Linked DNA regions of Homo sapiens: regions 1 and 3 are each linked to region 2. Evidence: fine-mapped expression QTL. A gene starts in region 2. Each other region holds a variant in brackets. All regions are shown on one strand. Distances are from middle to middle.

The links. PIP is the estimated chance that this variant, and not a neighbour inherited with it, causes the effect. A credible set is the group of variants that fine-mapping cannot tell apart.
Region 1: its variant is the best candidate, but not a certain one, in a credible set for the expression of GPR107 in whole blood (INTERVAL, PIP 0.61).
Region 3: its variant is the best candidate, but not a certain one, in a credible set for the expression of GPR107 in skeletal muscle (GTEx, PIP 0.74).

The regions. Positions count from the first base shown.
Region 1 is chr9:130,080,560-130,087,006 of GRCh38, forward strand. It overlaps GPR107 (G protein-coupled receptor 107), which reads left to right. Exons shown (of 18, transcript NM_020960.5): 6 at 3,006-3,043; 7 at 5,861-5,917. Among named protein-coding and RNA genes, the nearest start is that of GPR107, 30 kb to the left of the region's middle. The variant TAA/T (reference allele first, on the strand shown) is at 3,846.
Region 2 is chr9:130,050,347-130,056,793 of GRCh38, forward strand. GPR107 (G protein-coupled receptor 107) reads left to right here and starts at 3,560. Exons shown (of 18, transcript NM_020960.5): 1 at 3,560-3,727. The coding sequence starts at 3,587. It also overlaps a transcript of FNBP1 not described here. RefSeq lists a silencer at 3,548-3,857.
Region 3 is chr9:130,071,048-130,077,494 of GRCh38, forward strand. GPR107 (G protein-coupled receptor 107) reads left to right here. Exons shown (of 18, transcript NM_020960.5): 2 at 4,589-4,702; 3 at 5,365-5,415; 4 at 6,252-6,331. Among named protein-coding and RNA genes, the nearest start is that of GPR107, 20 kb to the left of the region's middle. The variant G/A (reference allele first, on the strand shown) is at 3,549.

The DNA of each region.
Region 1 (6,447 bases), 30 kb after region 2:
CGGCTCACTGCAAGCTCCGCCTCCCGGGTTCACGCCATTCTCCTGCCTCAGCCTCCCAAGTAGCTGGGACTACAGGCGCCCGCCACCATGCCCGGCTAATTTTTTGTATTTTTAGTAGAGACAGGGTTTCACGGTGTTAGCTAGGATGGTCTCGATCTCCCGACCTCGTGATCCGCCCGCCTCGGCCTCCCAAAGTGCTGGGATTACAGGCGTGAGCCACTGCGCCCGGCCCTGTTTATTTATATTTACTCTTATTACTGAGACTGTACTTTTTCTCCATGTGTTGATTAACCAATTTATATTCACCATTTTTTATTAACTGTCAGGTTCATCTGATGATTCATGTGAGTTCTTTAAAGATAATTTATGGCCAGGTGCAGTGGCTCACGCCTATAATCCCAGCACTTTGGGAGGCCAAAGTGGGAGGATCACTTGAGTCTAGGAGCTTGTACCAGCCTGAGCAACATAGCGAGGCCCTGTCTCTGCAAAAATAAAAATAAAAAAATTAGCCATGCGTAGTGGCATGTGCCTGTAGTCACAACTCCTCAAGAGACTGAGGCAGGAGGATTGCTTGAATGTGACTGGTCTAGGCCACATTGAGCCGTGATGCACTGCAGCCTGGATGACAGAACAAGACCCTGTCTCCGAAATAAATACATACATACTTACTGCTTATACAATGTTTTTCTCAAAGGAGGCTGGGCATGGTGGTTCATCCCTGTAATCCCAGCACTTTGAGAGGCCAAGGCGGGCAGATTACTTGAGGTCAGGAGTTCAAGACCAGCCTGGCCAACATGGTGAAACCCCATCTCTACTAAAAATACAAAAATTAGGCCGGGTGTGGTGGCTCACGCCTGTAATCCCAGCACTTTGGGAAGCCGAGGTGGGCAGATCACAAGGTCAAGAGATTGAGACCATCCTGGCCAACATGGTGAAACCCCGTCTCTACTAAAAATACAAAAAATTAGCCGGGCATGGTGGCACGTGCCTGTGATCTCAGCTACTCAGGAGACTGAGGCAGGAGAATTGCTTGGACCAGGGAGATGGAGTTCGCAGTGAGCCAAGATCGCACCACTGCACTCCAGCCTGGCGACAGAGTGAGACTCTGTCTCAAAAAAAAAAAAACAAAAAACAAAAAACACAAAAATTAGCCGGATGTGGTGGCATGCGCCTGTAGTCCCAACTGTTGGGGAGGCTGAGGCAAAAGAATTTCTTGAACCCAGGAGACAGAGGCTGCAGTGAGCCGAGATTGCGCCACTGCACTCCAGCCTGGGTGACAGAGTGAGAGCCTGTCTCAAAACCAACCACCACCACCGAAAAACAACAACAACAACAAAAAAAGAAGAGGTTTAATTGTCTAATTGCCTCACAGTTCTGCAGGCTATACAAAGCATGGCGCCGGAATCTACTCCTGGTGAGGGCCTCAGGAAGCTTCCAATCATGGCAGAAGGCAAGAAGGAGCAGGCAGGTCACATGGCGAGAGCAGGAGCAAGAGAGAGTGGGGAGGTGCCACACTCTTTTAAACAACCAGATCATGCCTGAACTCGGAGCAAGAACTCACTCCTTACCACAAGGAGGGCACCAGCCATTCATGAGGGATATGTCCTCATGACTCAGATACCTCACACTAGCCCTCACATCCAACACTGGGGACTGCCTTTCCACATGAGATTTGGAGGGGACAGACATCTAAACTATGTCGTTCAGTCTGTCCAACTTGACTGCAGTTAAAAGCCACACAGAAAGACTGCATTTGTGCAATGGTGTAGGTTAATGCCTGTGCACCATCTGCTTCTTGTCTGGCTTCTTTGTGCTCATATCACCGTTCTCTGGGAAGAAAATATTCTTTTCTTTCTCTTTATTCTCTTCCTTCCTGCAGGGAGCCTGAAGTCCAGTCTTTCCCAAAAAGAATATCTTTTTTTTTTTTTTTTTTTTTTTTAGACGGAGTCTTGCTCTGTCTCCCAGGCTGGAGTGCAGTGGCGCGATCTCGGCTCACTGCAAGCTCCACCTCCCAGGTTCACGCCATTCTCCTGCCTCAGCCTCCCGAGTAACTGGGACTATAGGCACCTGCCACCACGTGGCTAATTTTTTTGTATTTTTTAGTAGAGACGGGGTTTCACCATGTTAGCCAGGATGGTCTCAATCTCCTGACCTCATGATCCGCCCATCTCAGCCTCCCAAAGTGCTGGGATTATAGGCATGAGCCACCGCACCCAGCCCAAGAATATCTTAAGTGAAAACAAAAGATAGATGCCCACTCTGTTCCATGAAAGAAGCCATTAGCAATCTTCTTGCTGTAGGGAGGAAAGTATCATTATGCTAATATTACTTGCTGTTAACTTTTTCAAGTGTGTAAATGTATCTCATGTTTTTCTTTTTGAGATGGAGTCTCGCTCTGTCACCCAGGCTGGAGTGCAGTGGTATGATCTCAGCTCACTGCAGCCTACACCTTTTGGGTTCAAGGGATTCTCCTGTGTCAGCCTCCCGAGTAGCTGGGATTACAGGCATGCACCACCATGCCCGACTAATTTTTGTATTTTTAGTAGAGATGGGGGTTCGCCAGGTTGGCCAGGCTGGTCTCAAACTCCTGACCTCAGGTGATCCACCTGCCTCAGCCTCCCAAAGTGTTGGGATTGCAGGCATGAGCCACCGCACCTGGCCTTCTTCTTAAAAATTGTGTTTTCAAATGTGATTACTTAGAAAATTAGGAAGTCATTCCATGTGGCCTCTCTGGCAATAACATAAGCTAGAATATCCAGAAATGAATTCTGTTGTTACTATTACCGGTTACTAGATACCATTTATAATATAACAAGGTCTAATTTGCTGCTTCGACAGTACAAGAATTATGTTTTGGGACCTGAGGAAATGGCAGTCCCCAAGATTATTTTGTTTAATTATTTGATATTAGACAAGCTGAAGCCTCATAAAATGATACTGTAATATATATATGTATCTGTAAGTTGAGTCATGCAGCACTCTCTTTTAAATGTTCTTGCTTCTAGATGGTGGAAAGTCTAAAAGAAGTACAGTGGATTCAAAGGTAAGAACTAACCACCCTTTTGTGCTCAGCTTTTCTGGATATGTGTGTACGTGTGTGTGTTATATGCATGTGTGTGTGTGTATTGATATATATACATACATGCATGCACAGACACATACATATACAGTCGTCCCTTGGTGACCACAGGGGATTGGTTACAGGAACCCTAGTGAATATCAAAATCAGTAGATGCTCATGTCTCTTATATAAAATGGCATAGTATTTACACATAACCTACACACATCCTCCTGTGTACTTTAAATCATCTCTGGAGTACTCATGATACCTAATACAACGTAAATGCTTTGTAAATAGTTGTTACACTGTGTTGGATTTTTATTTATGTTATTTATTACTATTACTTTTTCATCTTATTTTAAAAAATATTTTTGGTTGGCAGTTGGTTCAATCTGCAGATGTGGAACCTGCAATACAGAGAGCTAACATATATATATATATATATATATGTACACACATACATACATACACACACACGCATATCTCATCTACAGGGGGCCAGATGTGGTGGTTCATGCCGTAATCCCAGCACTTTGGGAGGTTGAGGTTGGGGGATCACTTGAGATCAGGAGTTCGAGACCAGCCTGGCCAACATAGTGAAACTCTGTCTCTACTAAAAATACAAAAATTAGCTGGGCTTGGTGGTGCATGCTTGTAATCCCAGCTACTTGGGAGGCTGAGGCAGGAGAATCACTTGAACCTGGGAGGCAGAGGCTTCAGTGAGCCAAGATCGCGCTACTGCACTCCAGCCTGGGTGACAGAGTGAGACTATCTCAAAAAAAGT[TAA/T]AAAAAAAAAAAAATCTACAGGGAATTGTCTCCTATTTTGGGGGAGAGCATTGACATACTGAAACAATTTCAAAGGACAATTGATTCCTGGCTGGGCATGGTGGCTTGCGCCTGTAATCCCAGCACTGTGGGAGGCTGAGGTGGGTGGATTAATTGAGCCCAGGAGTTCAAGACCAGCCTGGGCTACATGGCGAAACCTTATCTCTACAAAAAATAGAAAATTAGCGGGCATGGTGGTATGCGCCTGTGGTCGCAGCTGTTCTGGAGGCTGAGGTGGAAGGATCACCTGAGCCTGGGAGGCTAAGGCTACAGTGAGCTATGATTGTGCCACTTCACTCTAGCCTGGGTGACAGAGTGAGACCCTGTCTCAAAAAAAAAAAAAAGGAAAAGAAAATTGATTTCTAAGTTGCACAGCACTTACATGATGTAGGATCAGGTAGTTAGGGAAGGAAGATGCCAAACCATCAGAAAAGCCCTCTGGAAGGAGCTGTCGCCGGGGCTGAGTCTGGAGTTTGTTCAGGGAAGAGAAAGACAAGGGAGGGGAGGAAGAATGCCATACGCAAAGACTGGATGATGACAAATGCTGAGCACTGGCTCGTTTGAAGTAAAAGACACATATTTGGGAGCAGAGAGAGGTCTTAGATAATATAGGGCCAAGCAATAGAGGAATTGATGAGCAGGCTACGGGAAGTCATCCTGAGTTCCTGATTGGGAAAGACTGTTTATTAAAGATCATAATTCTGAAAGTGACGTGAAGGGTAGCCTTGGAGAAGGAGAAAGGGTTGTTAGAAGGACCAGGAAGGACACAGTTGTGAGAATACAGGTTTCGGGTGATGAGGATCTGGACTAGAGCAGAGCCTTGGATGGTAAACGACTGGGAAGCCAGTTAGGGTCATGGGAGGGAAAGAGAGGAGCAGAGGAGTGGGTCGTAGAAATAGCAGAAGTGGAAAAACTGGGAAAGTTTTGGTTGGCGATATCTTGATTTCTCCATGAGGGGGACATCTAAATGGTGATGTTTTGTCTTAACAGCTTTGTTGAAGTATAATTGACCTAAAATAAACTGTAGATATGTAAAGCAGCAATCTGATAACTTTGACTTATCAATCAAGGTAGTGAAATATCCATCACCCCAAAAATTTCTTCTGCCTTTTTGTAAGCCCCCTGTCCCCAAGCAATCACTGATCTGTCACTGGGGTATAGATTAGTTTTATAGAACTTCATATAACTGAATTATGCAGCACTCTTTTCTGTCTTATATTCAGCATAATTACTTTGAGTTCATCCACATTGTTGCATGTATCATTTCTTTTCATTGCTCAGTTTTACTGTATAAATGGCAATATTTTGATTTTTTTTTTTTTTTTTGCCGGGGGGAACGCAGTCTTGCTCTACCACCCAGGCTGGAGTGCAGTGGCACGATCTCAACCTCCACCTCCCAGGTTCAAGCAGTTCTCCTGCCTCAGCCTCCGGAGTAGCTGGGATTATAGACACGCACCACCACGCCTGGCTGATTTTTGTATTTTTAGTAGAGATGGGGTTTCACCTTGTTGGCCAGGCTGGTCTTGAACTCCTGACCTCAAGTGATCTGCCCACCTTGGCCTCCCAATATGTTGGGATTACAGGCGTGAGCCACTGTGCCTGGCCAATATTTTGGTCATTTGATGTCAGGAGTGGAATTCAGGGGATGTAACAGGGCATGGCCTGGGTCAGCACCCTTAGTCTGACTGAAGCTTCAAGGGTAGACAAGCTGTCTAGCCGAAAGATTCAAGGCAGGGGGTGGAGGTAGGGGTTAGTGCAGAGGCAGAAGAGACAGGTGAAGAACAACTACCATTCTCTGTGAAAGCAGATTTCAGCCATCTCGAAAGGATAGTTGGTTTTATTTTCAGAGAGCTTTTTTGAAGGTCAGCAAATTTAGAGTTTAAGAAACATGTTTTGTTTTGTTTAATAAATTACTTTTAATTAGCATGCTTCTATGCCGGTGTCATCCTAAAACATACTATTATGTCTTTTTAGGCCATGGGAGAGAAATCCTTTTCTGTTCATAATAATGGTGGGGCAGTGTCATTTCAGGTATGTATGCTCTTTGTGTAAAGCCTCCTAGAATTTCTCTCTACCATGTAAAAGGGTAATTTTTTTTTAGAGGAATTTTGAATTTAGGAATAACAACTTAGGTATGCCCTGTATCAGTCACTTAAATGCAGTAGCTCTCCTTATAACAAGCCCACAAGGTGGATATTGTTACCCATCTACTTATCAAATCAGAAGTCTCTGAGAGTGAATAACTTTGTGACTATCTAGTGTAGGTGACACGGTACAGTTTCCAACCCAGTCCTGCCTGGCTGTTCCCATGACCCCTTTGCCCCAATCCCATGCTACCTCCCATTCAAAGTGTGCCAGAAGCATAGTACCCCATTCTGAAAGGACCATTGATGATGATTTACGGTGATGTTGTAATTTTAGAGATGATTTCACCTAGACTCAGAGGCTTTGAGTGACCTGCTTAGCTGTCAGAGTTATTAATTGCCCATGAGTGTTTAGGGGCAGCATAATAGCATACGTATGGGAACAAGATACTGGACTGGGCCTCAGAACCCACTTAC
Region 2 (6,447 bases):
ATACACTAGGGTCGTCAGGTTGAGGAGTAATTTTGAAGTTTCTCTCCAATCCACAGGACTCAAAGTGTGTCAGAGCCTGGCTTTTCCATGATCACTTTCTACAAAAAGATGCACTTGGAGGCATTCCCGACACCCCAAGAAATGCATGAAAACTTTAGCTGCAATCCTGGAAGAAATGGTGTTTCAAGCCAAAGAATGAAAAGTAGCATTTGACTTCTGAATGTATTGCTAGGCCCCAATTTGACCACTAGTTTCCTATACTGTCTTAACAGAGGCTTTTGGTTTGCAATATCAATCAACTCTTTTTTTTTTTTTATTTGACAGGGTCTTGCTCTGTCACCCAAGCTGGATAAAAGTGTCATGGCTTACTCCAGTGTTGACTCCTGGGCTCAAGCAATCCTACCACCTCTCTGCCTCCTGAGTAGCTGGGACTACAGGTGCGTGTCACCATGCCCGCTAATTTTTGTGTTTTTTTTTTGTTTTTTTGTTTTTGTTTTTGAGACAGAGTCTTGCTCTGTCGCACAGGCTGGAGTGAATTGGTGCAATCATGCTCGCTAATTTTTTTTTTTTTTGAGACAGAATCTCGCTCTGTCACACAGGCTGGAGTGCAATGGTACAATCTGGGCTCACTGTAACCTCCGCTTCCCAAGTTCAAGCGATTCTCCTGTCTCAGCCTCCTGAGTAGCTGGGATTACAGGCATGCGCCACCATGCCTGGCTAATTTTTGTATTTTTAGTAGAGATGGGGTTTTGCCATGTTAGCTAGGCTGGTCTCAGACTCCTGGCCTCAGGTGATCCACTGACCTCAGCCTCCCAAAGTGCTGAGATTACAGGCCTGAGCCACCGCCCCTGGCCTAATTTTTGTATTTTTTGTAGAGAAGGTGTTTCACCATGTTGCCCAGGCTGGTGGCAAACTCCTGGGCTCAAGTTATCCACCAGCCTTGGCCTCCCAAAGTGCTGGGATTACAGGCATGAGACACCAGCCAGGCCTATCAAGTCTTTTGATAAGAAAAACAAATGGCAATTATACTTTCTTAAACTGGAGACTATTAACACATTAATTACTTAAAAGAGTTCTGAAAATGTCCAAACCGATATCAAATAATTATTTAATAATAATAGCACTAGATTCAACACTACACATTCTAGTAGCAACCTTAAGCTGATCCTGAAAAGTTAGAGAAAATAGTCCAGGCAGGGTGGCTTACGCCTGTAATCCAGCAATTTGGTAAGCCGAGGTGAGCAGATCACTTGAGGCCAGGAGTTCAAGACCAGCCTGGCCAACATGGTGAAACCCCATCTCTAGCAAAAATACAAAAATTAGCTGAGCATACTGGCGCACACCTGTGGTCCCAGCTAGGGAGGCTGAGGCATGAGAATCCCTTGAACCTGGGAGGTGGAGACTACAGTGAACAGATGTCACACCACTGCACTCAGTCCTGGGCAACAGTGTCTCTGTCTCAAAAAAAAAAGGAGAGAAAATAGAAAAATAAAATGTACTTGACTAAGAGAGTAAGGCTAAAAGCCAAGCTTAGGAGATCAGTCTTTCCAGCCCCTGCAGGCTTTTTCAGTCAATACCTTAAAGTGTAATGTCCCTTTGAAAATGTTGCCAGGAGAAGCAGGCATAACTTGTTCTGTTACTCAGCCTGTTTGTTTCCAGTTACAGCATCATGATTATGCAAATAATCTTTTCTTGAAACTATGAAATCACATGGCTAAATGTAATTGTCAAGGCAGCAGTTTTCTAGAATTTAAGAAGTAACTGTAGAGAAAATGCTCAACAATGTCTTTGTAGTCAGTTTTCCCTCATTCTTATTCCTCTCAATTCCAAAATAATGACTGGCACAATACAGCTTTCAAATATGTGAAAGAAGAAGATATCCTCTTAAACCCCTGGACAGACAGCACTGGTATGACCCTATGTAGGTCACATGATAATACCCAAGTATAGAGAAGCAAGGAATGCTATGAACCCAGTTTTAAGCCCTTATAAAACTGTTGTCCAGAAACTAAGACAAAAGTCTCCTATTTAAAACTATTTTAATGTTTCATCACTATTGTATTATAAAATGGGATTAAGATTCTTACCTGATTTTTTTTTTATTGAGACAGAGTCTCACTCTGTCACCCAGGCTGGAGTGCAGTGGCATGATCTTGGCTTACTGAAACCTCTGCCTCCCAGGTTCAAGTGCTTCTCCTGCCTCAGCCTCCCCAGTAGCTGGGACTACAGGCGCGCGGCCGTGATGCCCCGCTAATTTTTGTATTTTTAGTAGAGACGAGGTTTTGCCATGTTGCCCAGGCTGGTCCCGAACAACTGACTTTCAAGTGATCCGCCCGCCTCGGCGTTCCAAAGTGCTGGGATTCAGGCGCGAATCACCACCCTGCCAGGCCTCATTTCGTTTTTAGTACAGTATTATATTCAAATTTAAAACCAGAGATTTTCAAAGATGCCACTTAACTTTAAAAGATAAAAAGTACTCCAAAGCAGGTTGGGCGCAGTGACTCACGCCTGTAATCCCAGCACTTTGGGAGGCCGAGGCGGGAGGATAACTTGAGGTCAGGAGTTCGAGACCAGCCTGGCCAACATGGGAGAAACCCCGTGTCTACTAAAAATACAAAAATTAGCCGGGCGTGGTGGCGCAGGCCTGTAATTCTAGTTACTCCAGAGGCTGAGGCAGGAGAATCGCTTGAACCCAGAAGGCGGAGGTTGCAGTGAGCTGAGATCGTGCCATTGCACTCCAGCCTGGGTGACAAGAGCTAGACTCCGTCTCAAAAAAAAGAAGTTCCTATAATTTCTGAAAGAAGCAAAGAAAGTTTCCATACAGAATTAAGAGAAAAATGTTAAGACCCAGACTTGGGGTTGGATGAAATAGCATGAGGCAACAGAACACAGGAGTTAAGAGCTTCCGTGTGATTCCCAGCTCAACCTGGAGCAAATGACTTATTTCTCAGAGCCTCAGTTTGCTTACCTGTAAAGTAGGAATAATGATAATACGTACCTCCTAGCTCATCAAATTGTTCCAAAAATTAAATACAACAAAAGGCCTAACAAATTGCCTCATAAGGGCTCAATCAATCGTATTATTGCAACCATTTCGCTTGTATTTGAGTGTGAAGCGCCTAGAAAACCACAGGACCCCTACGGCGAGCCGGGAATTTTTAGATATTTTCCTCCGAGTCAACGCTCAGTGAAATCAGTTCAATCAGTGGCCCGACACCGTGCGGCTGACACAGCTTATCCCCCGACCCTGAGATCAGGGGTCCCCGGAGCCCAAGGTCGCTTCCAAAGCTCAGCGAGGCGGAGGTGCGGCCCGGGCTGGTCTGGTTCGGCCACCGTTGTTATGGCAACCGCCAATAGGTTGGCTTCATCTCTAACTGAAAGTCTGCACAGGAGCGGCCGATCGAAGGGCCCCGAGGTGGGCAGCACAGGCTCCTCGACGACTTCCTAGGTCGCAATCTCCAGGAAAACGACCACAGGGTCAGCGGAGCTAGCCGCCGAGCCCCGCTCCCCGGGCCCTTCCGGCGGCTGCGCCCTTTCACCCCGGACGTGGGCGGGAGAGGAAGCGGCTGGTGATGCTGGAACAAACATGGCCGCTCTGGCGCCCGTCGGCTCCCCCGCCTCCCGCGGTCCTAGGCTGGCCGCGGGCCTCCGGCTGCTCCCAATGCTGGGTTTGCTGCAGTTGCTGGCCGAGCCTGGCCTGGGCCGCGTCCATCACCTGGCACTCAAGGTAAAGCTTGGCAAGGCCGGGCCGGGGGGCGGAGGCCGAGGCCACTCCCCGGGTTTTAGGGCAACTTTGGCCCATTGGGGACCTCTGAGCCACTGGACCACCTCTTTGCCCCTGGCTGCGGCCTTTCACTGACAGGTGGCGGGGTCTGTGGGGAAGGCGGGTCTGGGCGGCGCTGGGGTCTTCGGGCTGACCGGCACGGGGCGGGAAGACTCGAGCTGAGGGAGGGGAAGGGGCTGAACTGTGGCGTTGCCCCCACGGACTCGGGAGGCTGCTCTTAAATCCCTGCTGGCTTCCCTGAATTCCTCACTCAGGGCAGCCCGATCGCCTTTCTTCTTTCTCCCCTCCAGCTTTTATGCTGGCTTTCCTTGTCCGCGGTCTCCGCTCTTCTGTGCCCTTGTACTGTACCGGCGGTTTGAAGGTACTTGGAACCTTAGCCTCAGTTTCCCATTTCGGTTTAGGGCGCTCTCTGGAGCGAGACTCTAGAGAAGGAATTTCAAATCTTGCTTAAAACACGTGACTGAGAATGTAAAGCCAGCATTAAGGTGTGTCTCTAATCAAAGGGCCTGCTTTTTCTTCCTCTATCCAGCCATTGTCTAGGGAAGAGAGATTTTTGATAAACCTAGAATGATACTCTGGATCTTGCTTTGTAACTAGCAGAGAAAAGACCTCTAAGGCTGAAACGCACCCTAAGGTGGTTCAGCAGTTTACTATATCTGGGAAATTGTCCAGGTGCTGTGGCTCATGCCTGTAATCCCAACACTGGGAGGCCTATGCAGGAGGATTGTTTGAGCCCAGGAGTTCGAGACCAGCCTAGTCAACGTGCTAAGGACCCCCTCCCCAAACCTGTCTCTACAAAAAATTAAAAATTAACCAGGTGTGGTGGCAAACGCCTGCAGCTTCTGGGGAGGCTGAGGCTGGAGGATCACTTGAGCCTAGGAGGTTGAGACTGCAGTGAGCCGTGATTACTCATTGCATTCCAGCCTGAGGAACAGAGCAAGACCCTTTCTCAAAACATATAAACAAAATTAGAGACATAGAAAAGTAAATTGTTATGACCCAAACTCTTGTACATTATTTTCATACCATACAGTCTTCTAAGAAGTGGAACTGTAGGCGGGGCGCGGTGGCTCACGCCTGTAATCCTAGCACTTTGGGAGGCCGAGGCAGGCAGATCACGAGGTGAGGAGATCGAGACCATCCTGGCTAGCACGGTGAAACCCTATCTCTACTAAAAATAAAAAAAAAATTAGCCAGGCGTGGTGGCAGGCGCCTGCAGTCCCAGCTACTCGGGAGGCTAAGGCAGGAGAATGGCGTGAACCTGGGAGGCGCTTGTAGTCCCAGCTACTCGGGAGACTGAGGCAGGAGAATGGCGTGAACCCGGGAGGCGGAGCTTGCAGTGAGCCAAGATCCCGCCACTGCACTCCAGCCTGGGCAACAGCGCGAGACTCCGTCTCAAAAAAAAAAAAAAAAAGAAGTGGAACTGTAGAAAGTTTGTCTTGTAAAAACACATTGTTTTAGCAAACTATGAAGCATTGTATTTTGTTAATGTAGAATTTAAAGAATACAGAATGAAATTAAAAGCCTGGCTTGACTGGGCACGGTGGCTCACACCTATAATCCTAGCACTTTGGGAGGCCGAGGTGGGCGGATCACCTGAGGTCAGGAGTTCGAGACCAGCCTGGCCAACATGGCAAAACCCCTCTCTACTAAAAATACAAATATTAGACGGGCATGGTGGCACATGCCTGTAGTCCCAGCTACTTGGGAGGCTGAGACAGGATAATTGCTTGAACCCGGGAGGCTGAGATTGCAGTGAGCAGAGATCATTGTGCCACTGCACTCCAGTCGGGGCGAAAGAACTATACTCTGTCTCAAATAAATAAATAAATAAATAAATAAATGCAAGCCTGACTGGATCCATACAACCTTACTTTTTGGTAACAACTTTTGTTGTTTGTAGGTAAAAATTATCCTGATTAAAATGGTTCAATCACAGGGGTGGGGGTGGGGCAAGTGAATTTTGACTCTTTGAGAATCTGTTGAGAGCTATAGAACCTCTCTCCAGAAAAGTGCATGTAGAAATGTAGACAAAACTTGGCCGGGCACGGTGGCTCACGCCTGTAATCCCAGCACTTTCAGAGGCTGAGGTGGGTGGATCACTTGAGGTCAGGAGTTTGAGACCAGCCTGGCCAACATTGTGAAATCACATCTCTACTAAAAATACAAAAATTAGCCAGGCGTGGTGGCAGGTACCTGTAATCCCAGCTACTCGGGGCTGAGGCAGGAGAATCGCTTGGACCCAGGAGTAGGAAGTTGCAGTGAGCCAAGATTGAGCCCCTGTACTCCAGCCTGGGCGACAGAGCAAGACTCCGTCTCAAAATAAATAAATAAATAAAATAAAATAAACATCCGAAGTCAGGGGTGTCCAATCTTTTGGCTTCCCAGGGCCACATTGGAAGATGAAAAGTTGTTTTGGGTCACACCTAAAATAGACTAACAGTAACCATAGCTGATAAGCTTTAAAAAATTGCAAAAAAATCTCATAATGTTTTAAGAAAGTTCACAAATTTGGCTGGGCGCAGTGGCTCACGCCTGTAATCCCAGCACTTTGGGAGGCCGAGATGGGCGGATCACAGGGTCAGGAGATTGAGACCATCCTGGCTAACAAGGTGAAACCCCGTCTCTACTAAAAATACAAAAAATTAGCCAGGCGTGGTGGC
Region 3 (6,447 bases), 21 kb after region 2:
TTTTTTGAGACAGAGTCACACTCTGTGGCGCAGGCTGGAGTGCAGTGATGCAGTCCCAGCCCACTGCAGCCTCGACATCCTGGGCTAAAGCAATCGTCCCACTTCAGCCTCCTGAATAGCTAGGATGCCACCACAACTGGCTAATTTTTTTTTTTTTTTTTGCTAGAGATGGGGTTTCTCTGTTGCCTAGGGTGGTTTCAAACTCCTGGGCTCAAGCAGTCTGCCTGCCTCAGTCTCCCAAAATGTTGGGATTATAGGCGAGAGCCACCTCGCCTGGCCCCTCACCCTTTTTTTTTCTATCAAATGTTACTGAATATAGCTTTTTACATTTAATGTTGTATCATGATTACTTTCCCTTGTTAGGAAATGATAATGTGAAAATGGCTCTCATATCAGATCTAGTTTGAAGCCCCAGCTTTATTAGCTATAGTCTGCTTGGCCTCAGGTAGTCATTTCTCCTCTGAACTGGTGTCTTCATCGCTACCGTGGGGCTGCTTCTCTTAACCACACTGAGCTGAGCGAGGGTCAGAAATCATAGGTAAAGCCCTTGGCACATAACCTAGTTCTTGGAAGACTCTGAAAACTGGGAGTTGTGATGCTGTTGTTATTATCATTATTATTATTATTACTATTTTTGTTTTGTTTTGTTTTTTGCGATAAAGTCTTGCTCTTGTCCCCCAGGCTGGAGTGCAATGGTGCAATCTCCGCTTACTGCAACCTCTGCCTCCCAGGTTCAGGCGATTCTCCTGCCTCAGCCTCCCAAGTAGCTGGGATTAACAGATGCCTGCCAGCAAGCCTGGCTTATTTTTGTACTTTTAGTAGAGACGGGGTTTCACCATGTTGGCCAGGCTGGTCTCAAACTCCTGACCTCAGGTGATCCGTCCGCCGCGGCCTCCCAAAGTGCTGGGATTACAGGCGTAATCCAGCCTTATTATTATTATTTTTGAGACAGTCTTGCTCTGTTTCCCAGACTGGAGTGCAGTGGTACAACCCGGCTCCCTGCAGCCTCTGCCTCCTCGGTTCAAGCACTTCTGCCTCAGCCTACCAAGTAGCTGGGATTACAGGCACACACCACCACACCTGGCTAATTTTTGTATTTAGTAGATATGGGGTTTCACCATGTTGGCCAGGCTGATCTTGAACTCTTTCTATTTATTTATTTTTTTATTTATTTAATTTTTTTTTTTTTTTGAGATGGAGTCTCGCTGTCGCCCAGGCTGGAGTGCAGTGGCGTGATCTCGGCTCACTGCAGGCTCCGCCCCCTGGGGTTCACGCCATTCTCCTGCCTCAGCCTCCCGAGTAGCTGGGACTACAGGCGCGTGCCACCTCGCCCAGCTAATTTTTTGTGTTTTTAGTACAGATGAGGTTTCACCGTGTTAGCCAGGATGGTCTCAATCTCCTGACCTTGTGATCTGCCTGCCTCGGCCTCCCAAAGTGCCGGGATTACAGGTGTGAGCCACCGCGCCCGGCCTTGATCTCGAACTCTTGACCTCAGGTGATCTGCCTGCTTTGGCCTCCCAAAGTGCTGGGATTACTGCCATGAGCCATCGTGCCCAGCCGATGCTGTTTTTATTGTTTAAAATAGTCTTCAAAAACCTGTTTTTCATGGCATTGTATCATCAAATGAAATGATGATGCAAAGGTTTAAAAAAAAGGAATGTACTATTTATGTTGGGGGGGGAACTGCTATCAGGTTGCAATCGAAACATTTTCTGGAAAAAAAAAACAAAACAACAAGAAAACCTGTATTGTGGTGGCCTAAGTATAAATGAAAGCCTAGCAGGTTTCCATTCTGCTGCAAAGCAGCTTCATGCTGGACCAATTAGAAAAGACATACTTTTAAAATTAAAACTTTATTGAAATGTAATATACATGGCTAAAAATTACTCATTATAAGCAAACAACTCAGCGCATTTCCAGAACGTAGACACACTCATGCAGCCCGCAGGAAATGAGGCAGAACCATTACCAAGCCCCTCCAGAAGCACCCTAAGCCTCACCTTCCCTCAAGTCCCAGGAAAGCCCCTTTCTCCTGAGAGTGGTCACTGTCTTCACCTCCGTCACCACAGATGATTTCCCCCTGCATTCCAGTTTGTTTTACATGAATATGGCTGTGATTCATATACGTTGTTTTATGTGGCAGAAATTGTGTGTTCATTTTCCCTCATCCTCTCCCTCTGCAGTCCTGCTCCACTGAGGATTCTGCCAGAGAATGAAGCCCTAATGTGCTAAGGCATCCATTTATGTAGTTGAGTTAATGTCTCCTGTGCCTCTAGGAGGGTAGTCATCATATACTGTCCTTGAGAGAATTGAGAAAATAGATACTGAAGACATTTTCCGTGGGTTTAATTCTCTCAGAGAATTCCAAGAAAGGCTGGGAGCCTTAGCTTTTCTGGCTTTTACCATTGACCCACTCTTGTAGATTCCAGGAGATGACCTCTGTTATCTTATCTGGCTTTTCTAATTGTTCTCTGTGAGAATGTTGGTTTGCTGCAAGCCACTCCAGCCCACCAGGAAGTGGAAATCCAGCAAACATGTTTTCACCACATAGCCAAGCTCCTAAGAAAATAAGGGAAATTCCCAGGGGCCCAAAAAAGGGAAGAAGGAGCTGAAACTCCATTGGGGAAAGAACAGGGAAGCCAGGGCTTCCCTGTGACGTTGCAGAAACTTGAAGCCCAGAGGCCTGGGTTTTTTGTTTGTTTTGTTTGTTTGTTGTTGTTGTTTTTGAGACAGAGTCTCACTGTGTCACCCAGGCTGGAGTGCCATGGCACGATCTCGGCTCACTGCAACCTCTGCTTCCCGGGTTCAAGTGATTCTCCTGCCTCAGCCTCCCAAGTAGCTGGGATTACAGGCATGTGCCACAATGCCCGGCTAATTTTTTTGTATTTTTAGTAGAGACAGGGTTTCCCATTTTGGCCAGGCTGGTCTCGAACTCCTGACCCCAAGTGATCCTCCTGCCTCGGCCTCCCAAAGTGCTGGGATTACAGGCGTGAGCCACCACGCCCGGCCGAGTCCTGGGTTTTTAACAGATGTTGAGGGGAAACAGGGACCATAGCCTTAGGCCTGAGCAGGGAGGTGAGTTGGAACTGTGTCCCTCTGCTTCTCAGCCCATAATCTAGGGCTGTCAAAAAGCTATGAATGCAAGAGTGGGCAGGAAAGAAAATCCTGCTAGTGATAGTGCAGTGTGGTGTAGTTCTGTGGGGGAGAGGAGGGGATTTAGTTTATGCTGTTTCTGCCAAAGATCTGCTCCACAGCCTGTCCTCACAGGCCTTTGGTGTTTGCCATTAGACTACCCGGGATGTCCAGGAAACCCCAAATCTAGAAATAAAAAGTTACCCTTCACACCAAGAATCAAATTGCAGACTTACGGAAGGTGTTGCAATTTAGCCAAATCTCAATATAAAAATTGTTACACAACATAAAGTGTGTTTGTGGAAGCCCAGTTTTAGAAGTGTTCACTGACACCATTGCTCTGTTGGCCCTGCAGTGTACTGACTTAGTTGAGATTGGAGTCAGGATGTTGAGACAGCATCAAGCAGGTGGGGTAG[G/A]CGTCTGCCCATGTGATTCAGTCTCACCAAACCTTAGGATTATCTTGTATCCAAAAGACTCTGTCTCCATGTCGCTAATTCCTATTCCTGGGATTCCTCTTGCATAAGGCTTTGTTCCCTGAAAACCCATCATCTACTGTATCACTTTTAGGTGAAAATTCACCTTTTTAAATAATTGACTTATAGCTTAGCTTCATTCTTTATCCTGCCAATGGGAGGAGCCAGGTACACACAAATTGATAAGAGGATTTATATAAATGAGTGTATTCTTGGAACAGCTTCAGCCGCTCCTTTTCTTCCTCCCCACCCCCCAGCATGTTTTGAGTGCCTACTAGATGCCAGGCATTGTACTATCAGGAAGGATGTGGGGATGACGATAACATGGTTCCTCCTGCCCTGGAATTCACATTTCAGCCAACCACTGAGTTTGCCCCTAGAACCCATACCAATGCATTGGAGTGAATTTGAATCCATTGAATACTTCCTTCTGCAGAAACTGTTGATATCTTTTGGATTTCCGATGAGTTGTCTTCAGCTTTTGGAGAAAGACATGTTACCACAGCTGTGTATGTTACTGAGCATATGGAAACATTGGCTGGCTAGCAAGAAATAAGATATCATAGTTTTTCTCTTCTTTTCTTTTACCTTTTTTTTTTTTTTTTTTTTTGAGACAGAGTCTTGCTCCGTCACCCAAGCTAGAGTGCAGTGGCATGATCTCGGCTCACTGCAACCTCCACCTCCCAGGTTCAAGCAATTCTGCTGGCTCAGCTTCCCAAGTAGCTGGGATTACAGGTGCCCGCCACCATGCCCGGCTAACTTTTTGTATTTTTAGTAGAGACAGGGTTTCGCCATGTTGGCCAGTGTGGTCTCAAACTCCTGACCTCAGGTGATCCACCCGCCTCAGTCTCCCAAAGTGGTGGGATTACAGGCTTGAGCCACCGTGCCCAGCCTGATATCATACTTTTTAAAGCAAATGAATAGGTTAAATAATCAAAAGCACTTTTCCATATGACTAATTCCACCACTACAAATCTCTTTAGGATGATGTGAGGCATAAAGTTCATCTGAACACCTTTGGCTTCTTCAAGGATGGGTACATGGTGGTGAATGTCAGTAGCCTCTCACTGAATGAGCCTGAAGACAAGGATGTGACTGTAAGTACCTTTTAATGAGATCCAGGGGTTTACTCTTTTTTTTTTTTTTTTGAGATGGAGTCTTGCTCTGTCACCCAGGCTGGAGTGCGGTGGCGCAATCTCAGCTCACTGCAACCTCCACCTCCCGGGTTCAAGCAGTTCTCTGCCTCAGCCTCCCGAGTAGCTGGGATTACAGGCACCCACCACCATGACCGTCTAATTTTTGTATTTTTAGTAGAGACGGGGTTTCACCAACTTGGCCAGGCTGGTCTTGAATTCCTGACCTCGTGATCCACCCGCCTTGGCCTCCCAAAGTGCTGGGATTACAGGTGTGAGCCACTGCGCCCAGCCCAGGGGTTTACTCTTTTAGCTTAGGTGAGAGTCACCTTCCAACCCCAATGCTTAAATATAAAATACCAGAATATGGAGATAATTAAGCATGTGAGTAGCAAATTATATATCAGGCATCAAATAATTTCACTTTTAACACTTAAAATGTAATTCTGTAATAATTCTAGTAATTAGTGACTTTGCTTGAGTGATTTTACTTTGCCTTCTTACAAAATGAATGCTAAGAAAACAGAGGAGACCACGTTAGAAGTACCACTTTTTCTGCTTTTTGAGTAAGAAAAGTATGGACAATTGTGTAGATATTTACTTCTACTGTTTTTACTCCCCATTAGATTGGATTTAGCCTAGACCGTACAAAGAATGATGGCTTTTCTTCTTACCTGGTGAGTATTAAATGTGTGACCTGATTCATCTCTTCACCTGAGCCCAGGCCATTGAACGGGAACACCCTACTTCTTGCAGTTCCATTTTCATTTTTTTTTTGGAGTACGGTGGCACAATCATAGCTCACTGCAACCTTGACCTCCCAGGCTTAAGCGATCCTCCCGCCTCAGTCCCCTGAGTAGCTGGGACTACCAGCGTGTGCCACCACGCCTGCCTAATTTTTGTATTTTTAGTAGAGACAGGGTTTCACATTTTGTTGGCCATGTCTCAAACTCCTGGACTCAAGGGATCCACCCACTGTGGCCTCCCAGAGTGCTAGGACTGCAGGCGTGAGCACCACGCCTGGCCACAGCGCCATTTCTTGAGGTAGTGGCTGCTTTGACTTCCAAGCATTTTTGAGAACCCACAGTTGGTTTACTTTTGTTTTTTGTTTTTTTTTTTGAGACAGAGTCTCACTCTTGTTGCCGAGGCTGGAGTGCAATGGTGTGATCTTGGCTCACTGCAACCTCCGCCTCCCTCGTTCAAGTGATTCTTCTGCCTCATCCTCCTGAGTAGCTGGGACTGCAGGTGCCCGCCACCACACCTGGCTAATTTTTGTATTTTTAGTAGAGACGTGGTTTCACCATGTTGGCCAGGATGGTCTCGATCTCCTGACCTCACGATCCACCCACCTCGGCCTCCCAAAGTGCTGGGATTACAGGCGTGAGCCACCACGCCCACCGGTTTACTATTTTGAATGGAGTTTGAGCCACGTATTTGCTATGTTCCTGAAAACTCTGTTCTTGTTCTAGTGTGAATGAATAAGATGATGTACAATTGGCTCTTCCTTTCTCAGGATGAAGATGTGAATTACTGTATTTTAAAGAAACAGTCTGTCTCTGTCACCCTTTTAATCCTAGACATCTCCAGAAGTGAGTAAGTAATTCTAAAGTTCCTTCAGTTCAGTCCTAGAGTAGAGTCGGGGAGAATTTAGTAGTATGCTAACATTCCTTGGGTGTCTGCCATGTGCCAGAGACCGTGCTGAGTGCTGG